Regions from separate parts of the Homo sapiens genome. Here region 2 is linked to region 1. Evidence: fine-mapped expression QTL. A gene starts in region 1. The other region holds a variant in brackets. All regions are shown on one strand. Distances are from middle to middle.

Region 1 (5,394 bases):
TCAGGACTAGGATTCAAACCCAAGCATTTAGATTATATAGCCCATATTCTTAATCATGAGACTATACTGCTCCTCACACACCAGGACTGATTACATCTTCTCTGTCTTTATAAATTCTAGGAAAATGCATTTTCACAGAGTCTAAATTGTACTTCTATGAACTGTGACTCTGTTACATCATTTAGCAAGTCTTTAGTTTTCCTGTGACATTGGCATCTGCAACTAGCCAAACTTTTTAATATAACTTATTTACATAAAACAAGTGAATCTAGAATATGATAAAAATCCCAAATTTTAATTCAGCACATATAAAACTGTTAGTGGTACCCCCTCCCCTCACCCCAATTTGGAAATACCATATTGATGGTCTTCATTGCCTTAAACAGGCTCCAAGCTGTGCTCTTGTAAGACGCTGGACTTTAAATCATAACCTTGCATAAATTCAAAACCAAATAAAAATTTTAACAAGACTTTTTCCTTTCAATACTAACTTTTTTTTTTACTTTCTAAGTAAAATGATTTAAACATTGTCTATTTTTAAGAAAGAGCAAAAAATGTGTTCACGGCAAGTTGGAACAGTGTGCAAATGCACTGGCTTCACTGTTATCTGGACAGCAAAGCATTAAATCACAAGGAGAAAAAAGTCAGCATGTTCTCTTAGAATACAAATAGGTTAGCGTCAGTAAGAACTTTGTCCAAAAAAGGGAAAAGACACCTACCCAGAGAATAAATCATGCATATGAAACCTATAATTTTAAGAAGTATTTTCAAGAAATGATATAGCTGATAAATATGACTGTGAGATAAAGCACAGAAAAAGTTCATGTGACTTTTTTTAAAGTGGACCTTCCAAATGTGATCAGTCAACATACCCCACTTTTTATCTATGATTCTTACATAAGATACAATTCACCAGTAGCTATGGAACTCACAGAAGAAAGTCTACATAGATTCTCTCTATCTGTCTGTCTCTGTCTCTCTGGACCTCTCTGTCTCTCTGATTCTGTGATGCAACAGTACTCAACATTATTAGGCACATAAGAACCTTAGGTTAAAATATGTAAAAAGTCCATATACCCGGACATATAAACACTCGTGGTCGTTTGAGATTCTGCAGATGTACAATATAAAGCTTTCTCACTCAGAACTTAAAAAAAAAAAAAAGAATTCTTCTTACCATATATTCCATATTTGCTGCCGGTGGGAACACTTTGCCCCGAACTTGATTATGATAATCAAGAATGGCGATCATGTCATTCTGCGAAATGTAGCGCTTCCGCCTGGCTTTGGGGATATCCGCTGAATCTAATTGTGCTTTCAGAGCTGCTTCAATATCAGTGAAATTATTGGTTGGCGGGGATGAGTCAGTGGAATTGAGTAGGACGACGGTACTTGCTTCACAGAGAAGGGAGAACAGGAGTGCACTGCTGACGGCAGAGATTGCTATCATTTTGAGGGGTGGAGAAGAAGAGGCCACCGAGTTTACTTTGCTTTAAAGCAGAAAGGTAGAGTTAGGGTCTATGAAAAAAAATAGGGCCAGAGGGTATGAATTTACAAAGACATCATTTGGGAGCATTGCTTGATTTGACTTTCTTCAAAAATCCAAACAAATGTTGAACTCAAGCCTAGGAGATAACCTACAGTAGAATCTCTATTCATTTTTTAGTGTCATGAGGCAGACCCCTAAGAGGAACTTTGTATAGCAGAGAAAAATAAACAGCATGACCACTAACCCTAAAATGAATGTGAACCATTTGCCCCAAATGTCTGAACCACAAAATATATTACTGCATATTTTCAGTGGGAAATTTTCAGCAATTGAAATTCACCTGGAGAGTGAAGAAAAAATGAATCACAGGTAACAACAGAGAATGTGCTGATAATGTCTGCCAGACATATAGACACACCAAGTGATAGAACACATACAAAAAAGTCATAGTAATCCAATCTCATTTCTTTAAAAAAATGTGAGCTACTTTAAAATCAATGCATGCAATATAAACTTGTTGAGCTAAATAGCTTACCTCTGCACAATGCCAAAATGAATATATTGTTCTTCCAAAAATTTAAGGTTCTTTGCTATGTGGTAGCATGAACTCTTGTAAGAGGAGTGTGTCTTTTTACAAACTCTCTGAGAGCAAAGCTCTGCAAGGTTTGAATGCTGCTGGCTAGAGGAGCAGCTAACAGCTTTTATATGTCACAGTTTGCAACGTCCAGAAAGGGCAGTCTTTCTAAGGGTCTCTCTTAGCCAAAATCAAAGGGGAGGGGTTTGGGGTAGAAAAAAACAGTGATTGGGTGGCAACCTTTTTATGTGGGTGGTGAGGAAATTGAGTCACACCCACAGCTTACAAAGTACAAGCCATAAAAGACAAACCCCTTTTTCTCTGGGCTTCCACCTTTTCTGTGAGTAATTTCTCTCATTTTATGCTTTCTAGTTCCTGGTTCCCATACAAAAAAGAAGAAACAAAGACAAAAAAAAAAAAGACTGTGGGTTCATGAAAAAACAGACAGTTGAGTAACAAGCAGTACATTTTTTTAAGACAGTAAATGACATGGGAGCTAAAAAGAACAAGCTGATATTAAATCAAGAGATCAGCTAACATAGTTAATCTGGGTGGCCACAAATATGATTCGAGAGGGATGCCAGGCAAATCGGTAGTAACCAAACTATAGCATATGATATTAGGATAATAGATGCTCAAGTGGCTGTGTTCTCTGCTTCCATGTGGCTGCATTCCTGTGCTTTATATATTTCTTCTTCTCTCTCTTATTTTACCTTCTCTCCCTTTTTTCTTTCTCTACAGAGTGAGGTCAGAAATTACTTGCTTTTTACCTGCCTTGTATAAAATGTGAATAGAGAAGCTCATGGCAAATGACAGCAGCCAAGATAACATCTGTTTCAGGTTTAGAGCATATAGTTGAAATTTTAAGCAGAGAATAGCTCAGCCTCTCAGGAAATGTATTAGAGGGCATAACACAGAGGCCATGAAGAATTTTAACAGCAGCAGCAGCTGCCAACAATTAGAAGTGCCTTGTTAGGAGGATGTCACAGGGGCAAAGTCTATGTCAGGCAAAGCAAGAAGAAGAATGTGAACATTGGTGCTCTATAATGAAAGGACCCTCCCCAAAATGCGTCATGATCTCATTAACAAAATGTGGACCACTTACAGTCAGTAGCAATAGGAATCCTGGAAAACACACGCTCTTCAGTTTAGAAACTTACTTAACTTACACTGATTTTTTCCAGCTTGCTAATGTGATTGTCTCCCACATGTTTCAGCAGAAGAAATACTATGTGAATTTACAGTCATCAGAAATGATGGTCATGTGGCACACTGGACAGGCAGCCAAGTTTCCTAGGATATATTCCCAGTTGGATCACGAGTAGTATGTGTGGTCAAATGCATACTGTTTAACTCTTCATTGGTGCACCTAAAAATGGGAGAGAAAAGATTCACGTTCTATGGTGAGACAGACATCATCAAGTTCTTTAAGAGGGTAGTGAGGTGTACCAGAGGTGTCACTAAAATTCAAACTACAGTGATGAGATACAGACTTTATAATAATATATACCAAAGTCCAGGTTTTGACACATTTTGATGACTATTCAACTCCTAACTAAAGTGAAATCATTTTAGGAGAGCCATAGCTGAAATATTGAGAGCTTTAAACAAGGAATTAATACTAAACTTGAAAAGGCATAAACAGATATATAAACTCAGGAGGTGAGCAAGGATATTATGAAACATTGGAGCAACTAGAGGAAATTCACATGGTTGTTCACAGCTGCAGATCTTAACAAGTGGAGCTGTCCAACTAGGGTTGCACCACTTTGGAAAGTATTCATGGCACCTTCAATGAATCTCAAATATGCTATATTAAGGATTCCTGAATTAAATCAGAGGTTAGATGAGAAACTCTCTGTAGGCCATCCAGCTCTAAGATCTGTGGACTTTTTGAGAAATTAGTGGCAGCACACATTAGCCTTTACTCTCTACATATCTCACACAGTTTCCCAGCTATCTGAGGAACAAAAGGACTTTTAATACCTGAACAGCAGTCATGAGCCTTTCATTCTCCAGGGTGACTGAGTTCTTGCTTAGAACCTCATAAGAATCGAAAGTTATATTTAAGACTACACCCTTTGTCATATACACAAAGAGGTATTGTCCACCTCTTGGGGTTTGACTTGAAAGATTTCCATAGGGATAAAAATGTGATGCTTGACAAACTTGTCTAAACCAAAAATGGATTTCCTCTAAGTGCAGGAAGTGGCTGGATGGAGGAGGAGGAGAAGGAATTTCTGAGATGCATCTAAACAGGAGATCACCTCTGAGTCCAATTACATAAGGGCAGAGCTGATAGTTGCTTAATCCGGAGACCCTGAGGCATGTCAATGATTTCAAATGTCTTTCAGCACACATGGATTATATTGTGGAATTTCGGACTATTAAGGAAACCCACAAGGCTATGGAATCATAAAAGAAAAGACCTGTGGGAGGAGAGTTAAGAATTCTGCTTCCAAGCAGACATTATTGCCAGAAGAAGTATTTGAAATGCTTTGGAGGTAATTGTAATTTTAAAATACTTGCAAAATTAAGAGGCATACATCCAAGTTGTCAGTAAGAGGACTGCTAATGAACAACTAACAATGAGGTGGTTTTTTTTATGAGGACTCTTCTTGAAAAAGACCATTGACATGTTTTGAAACCTTTAGGTCCTGCTTGCCAACAGAGACAGAAATGGAATGTAGTTATATTACTGAGAAGAAATGCATACACATTTGGCAGCATCTTGAAACCTGTGAGAAAATGGTTGTTATTTTAAAATGGAAATCAGATGTAAGCATTCCAGAATGGTACACCTGCTTAAGCAAAGCTACTTTGACGTGTGTGTGTGTGTGTGTGTGTGTGTGTGTGTGTGTGTGTGTGTATGTATGTGTGTATGTGTCACATATGCATTTGACTTTAGTCTAATTCTTTTCTAATTGAAATATGTTCTGTGGACTAGTACCCTTGAGATCACCTGGAAGCTTGTTAGAAATGCAGAATTTCAGGTCCAGCCAAGACCCACTAAATCAGAATCTTCATTTTATCAGGAATCTTGGATGATTCATATGCACATTAAGGTTTGAGAAGTACTATCTAAATCACTATGCTTCCAGAGACACAGAGAGACAATCTACTGCACACATGCCTGAATCAGCTATTGGAAAAGGCGATCTATCTAATAACATGGAGAGAACAAAAGACAATAGAGGTAGGCCCAAGTGTCTTTGAAGTGGAGAACACAAGTCAACCTCTATTTTATATGAAAAAAAAAATGGGCTGGGCACGGTGGCTCACTCCTGTAATCCAAATACTTTGGGAGGCCGAGGCTGGCGGATCACCTGAG
Region 2 (5,394 bases), 210 kb after region 1:
GAGCTTGCCCTGAATCCCAGGCTTTGGTTGTCCCTTGCCGTCTATCTGTAAGTAACAAATTTGGTTCATGTAACTTTGTGTGAGTGTTCTATCACACCCAAGTCAGGCAAACAACTGGTGCAGAGTAAACCTGCTTCACAATTTCCTCTACTGGCATTCCAAATAGTTGAACATCCTATCAATCATGATAGGTGGTGTATGGATGGATGAATGGATGGATTTCTGCAAATTTACATGAGGAGCCATAAAGCTGAGGGAACAGATAAATGAAAACCACAGCTTAAGAGATTTATAATCATGAAACATTACATTTTGTTCGTAGTGTCCTTACAAAGTAAAAAAGAAAAGTATTATGTATTATATAATTCTCCTTGTCTAAATAAATAAAATGTACTATTTATGAGAGACTTTCTGAAGCAAGATTATTAAAGAAATGTGTTTTTTACATTACAGCAGGGGATGTTAACAGACATCTTGCAAAAGGCTCACAAATACTATTCACATGGCCATTTAGGAAGGGTCATTTTAAAATCAACTATTAATCAAATTAAATGGCATGTAATTTATGTAATTTTTTTAAAAATCGCCAAATTCTTTCAAAAAATAGTTTTACTGCTTTATATTTCCACCAACAGTATATAAGAGTTCCAGTTTCTCTTCATCCTCTCCAACATTTGATGTTGTCAGTGTTTTTAATATAAGATATTTGTAATAGGTGTGCAATGGTATCTCATGGTGTTTTACTTTCCATTTCCCTAATGAAAAATTGATGTTTAGTGTTTTAATGTGCTTATTTGCCATTATATATATTTTCTGATGTAGCGTCTATTCAAATATTTTGCCAATATTACATTATTTTTATTATTGAGTTTTGAAAGATTTTTATGTTCAAAGTATAAACCCTTTATCAGATATATGATTTGCAAATATTTTCTAGCAGACTGTCACTTATCTTTCACTCTCTTAATAGTGTCTTTCTAAGAGCTGTTCTTCATTTTGATAATGTTCAATTTATCAATGTTTTATTTTGTGAATTATGTTTTTGGTATTATATCTAAGCAGTCTTTACTTAATCCAATTTCCTATGTTTTCTTCTAGAGATTGTGTATTTTTAGCTTGATACTTTTTGGTCTATAATTTCTTTTGAATTCATTTTTGTATATGATGTAAGGTAGGCAGTGGGGTGTTGTTATTCAATTGTTATTCAATTGAATTATTGATATTCAATTGTTACAGCAACATTATTGAAAAACCTATCTGTTCTCCACTGAATTGCCTTTGGTTCCTTGTCAAAAATCAATTAACTGTACATGTGTGAGTATATTTCTGAACTCATCATATTTTATCCTCATGCCAATATCATACTGCTTTGATTATTGTAGCTTTATAAAGGTTTTTGAAGGCAGGAAATGTAAGTCTTCCAAGTTGCCTCTTTTTTTTCAGAGTTTTTTTGGCTATTCTCAGTGGTTGGCATTTCTACATAAATTTTAGAATGAGCATGTCAATTTCTATTAAAAAGAAAAGGACTGCTGAGAAATTTATAGATTAATTTAGATACTTGACATATTAACAATGTTGAATCTTCCAAACTATGAACATAACTCTCCTTTTCATAAGTTTTAAAAATTTTTTCTCAGCAATATTGTATAGTTTGTATTTTACAGGTCTTGCATACCTTTTGAAGATTATTCTCTATTTCATAAGTAAGAACACTATTGTATATGATATTGAATTTTAACTCAATTTAAAATTATTGATTCCAAGAATATACAAACACAATTAAATTTTGTATATTAATCTTGCATCCTGCAACCTTGTTAAATTCACACATTATTCTAGTATCTTTTGAAGATTCCATAGAATTTTTTTTTTGGATGATTATGTTGTCTGCAAATAAAGAACAGATGTAAGCTGAGATGATTGATTTCAGACATTTTTTCTTTTCCATTACAGGTAGTTGGTGCCATACATTTCCCACAGGACTACTATTTTCCAATATCAACATCTTTAATTTATTTATTTATTTTTGTTTTAGTGCACTAGCTGGAAGTTTCGATATAATGTTAAATACAAAGGATGAGAGTAAATATTCTTACATTTTTCCTGGTCTTATGAAGAAAGAATTTTCTTTCACCATTAAGTATTATGTTGTCTGTAGGTTTTTCACATATGTTCATAGTGGGTTGAAGCACTCTCTTTTTAGTCCTAGCTGAGAGTTTTAGGTTAAGAATAAGTATTATTTATTATTATTATTATTTATTTATTATTATAAATAAAATACATTTATTACATTAAATGAGAGTATCTTTTTTTAGTCTAATAATCTGGCATATTAAATTGATTGATCTTTATATGTTAAACTCATTTTGCATTCTTGGAATAAATCATACAAGGTTTTGACTTATTATCACTGTTATATGTTGTTAACTTTGATCAATTAAAATTTTGTTAGAAAGGTTTGTATCACATTTATGAGGAATATTGGCATGCAATTTTCTTCCTTTGCAATATCTTTGTCTGGTTTTGGTGTTTGAGTAATGCTGGCATCGTATAATTGGTTGAAAAATATTTTCTCTTTTATAATTTTCTGGAAGAACTTGTATAGCATTGGCTTTATTTCTTGTTTAAATGTTTGATAGAATTCCCTAGC[G/A]AAGCATCTGGGTCTAAAGTTTCCTGTGTAAAAAATTTTTAACTACAATTCAACTATTTTACTAAATATGGGACTATTCAGGTTATCTATTTCTTCCTCAGTAAACTCTGTTAATTTTTATCTTTCACGGTATTTGTTCTTTTCTTGTAAGTAGTCAAATTTATTCACATATTTTAAGAGACAATATTTGTTATTATCCTCTTAATATCAATAAACTCTTTAGTGATGTCACATATCTTATTCCTGACACTGGTAATTTGCATATTTACTCTTATTTTTATCACTGGTTGCCAAAAAGCCTATTAACTTTATTAATCTTAAAAATTCTTTTGTTTTTATTAATTTTCTCTATTACTTTTATGTTTTCTCATTCATTAATTTCTGCTCTGGTTTTTATTATTATGTTCTGTAACATTAAAAAGTATTTACTTTGGATTTTATTTTGTTTTTTCTTATTTCTTAAAACTTAAGCTGAGATTACTGACTTGAGACCTTTCTTCTTTTCTAATACAGGTAGTTGGTGTCATAAATTTTCCACTAAGTTTTGTTTTAACTTCATCTCACAAAATTTGATACTGTATTTTCATTTTCATTCAGTTCGTAATATTTTCTACATTCCTTTCTTGACACACAGTTTACTTAGAAATGTCTTTATAATTTTCAAATATTTGGAGATTTTTCTATTCATGATTTCTAACTGTGGTCTGACAATATACTTTGTATGAATTTAATTGATTGAATCTTAACTTATGATTCAGAATATGGTCTATCTTGGTAAATATTTAGTGTGAACTATATATTAAATACACATAAAATATACATTGAAAAGAATGTGTATTCTGATTTTTTAGGATGGAGTGCTCTTTGTAGGTCAATAAGGTCAACCTGATTGATAGTGTTAAGACTTCAATATTCTTATAGATGTTTTTTTCTCTTCATCTTATCGTAACTGAGTAACCCAGTTGTTAAAGAAAAAAAGAGTTACAATTTAAAAAATTATTTTCTCTTCTTTTCTCCTTTCTCCATTTCCCCCATTCCCTATTTCCTATTTAGCCCTTTAGAAATGCAATTATAACCTTTTACATCTTCTTCCCCAGACACTCCCTATAGGGCAAGTTCATCTAATTATGTGCTTAGAAGCTCTAGAGCAGAACTCTCACCCACCGAAAAGGTGATCCAAGAGTTAACAGTTGACTTACAACCTAAAATATGCCTGCTATGAAATTTTAACCTACCAGGAAACTGTCTGAAGAGACAGCCGCCAATTTACAACCCAAAGTCCCATGCAAAATTCTCTCCCACCTGGAGAGTTTTTGGACACCTTTACAATCTATTAATATTTCTGCCAATGAAGATGCCAATTCAACTGCCCAATAGATAAGGCACCAAGCTAACATGTAGACACCTCCCACACCTGCTTGCTTTCTCCCTTGTGTGCCATTCATAATAGGCCCCCTTTAAAAGCAACCACTTTCTGATCCAAAGGTGAAGCGGTACCCTTAAGACAGGAAGGCTGTACTTCCGCTAAGCTAGTTTTGTAATAAAGAGTCACTTTCTTTATACCAGACTTTGCTCTTATTAATTGAACTCCATGAGCAGTGAGTGACTAAACCTGTATTTCACTTATACTATTAATTACTGAAAAAGGGTTAAATTCCTGAATAAAATGGTAGATTTGCCTATTTCTCCTTTTTGTTCTATCAGTTCTGGTTTTGTGTATTTTTATTTTTTTAGATGGAGTTTGACTCTTGTCACCCAGGCTGGAGAGCAATGGCATGATCTTGGCTCACTGCAACCTCTGCCTCCTGGGTTCAAGTGATTCTCCTGCCTCAGCCTCCCAAGTAGCTAGGATTACAGGCACCCACCACCACGCCCGGCTAATTTTTGTATTTTTAGTAGAGACGGGGATTTGCCATGTTGGCCAGGCTAGTCTCAAACTCCTGACCTCAGGTGATCCACCCACCTCGGCCTCTCAAAGTGCTGGGATTACAGGCGTGAGCCACCATGCCTGGCCTGTTATGTGTATTTTTTAAGCTCTATTATTAAGTGCTTAAATGTTTAATATCATTTTCCCCTAAAAAACTCACTCCCTTTATTATTGTGAATTAATTATCTTATAGCTACTATTATTTTTATGTTCTGAAATCTACTTTCTTTGATATTAATATAGCCACTCCAGCTTTCTTTTGATTGATGTTAGCAAGCAAATCTTTTTTTTTTTTTAAGTTTTACTCTGTGTGGGTCATTATATTTAAGGTGGGTTTCTTATAGGCTATATATAGTTGGATCTTGCTTTTTTCTCCAATCTTTCAATTTTTTTGCCTTTTAGTTGGGATTTTTAGGCCATTTACATTTAATACGGCTATTGGTAATGTTCAATTTGTCCTTTTTTGCCTTTAGGATTGAGGGTTTTTTATTATTTCATTTTATCTGCCTTTTTTTCTTTGTTACATACTAGCTATGTTTTTGTTGTGTTCTTTTAATGTTTGCTTTAGGATTTAAAGTACAATTTTTTAAAACTTTTATTTTAAGTTCAGGGGTGCATGAGCAGATTTATTATATAGGTCACAGGAATTTGTTGCACAGATTGTCACCCAGGTATCAAACCTAGTACCTACTGGTTATTTTTCCTGATCCTTTCCCTTCTTCCACCCTCTACACTCGGGTAGGCCCCAGTGTCTATCATTCCCCTGTACGTGTCTATGTGTTCTCATCATTTAGCTCCCACTTATAAGTGAGAACTA

Alleles and levels. Alleles are on the strand shown, and positions count from the first base shown. SD is a standard deviation of normalised expression in the study named.
For the expression in unexposed skin of the gene that starts at base 2,166 in region 1, A is the high allele of the variant in region 2 and G is the other (large effect, 1.3 SD a copy in GTEx).

What was found. PIP is the estimated chance that this variant, and not a neighbour inherited with it, causes the effect.
Region 2: its variant is fine-mapped to the expression of PI15 in unexposed skin (GTEx, PIP 0.94).

The regions. Positions count from the first base shown.
Region 1 is chr8:74,821,306-74,826,699 of GRCh38, reverse strand. PI15 (peptidase inhibitor 15) reads right to left here and starts at 2,166. Exons shown (of 6, transcript NM_015886.5): 1 at 2,025-2,166; 2 at 1,178-1,490. The coding sequence starts at 1,450.
Region 2 is chr8:74,606,600-74,611,993 of GRCh38, reverse strand. All of the region lies in intron 1 of MIR2052HG (MIR2052 host gene), which reads right to left. LINC03071 (long intergenic non-protein coding RNA 3071) reads left to right here. Exons shown (of 7, transcript NR_183468.1): 7 at 1,954-2,201. Among named protein-coding and RNA genes, the nearest start is that of MIR2052HG, 9.5 kb to the right of the region's middle. The variant G/A (reference allele first, on the strand shown) is at 2,651.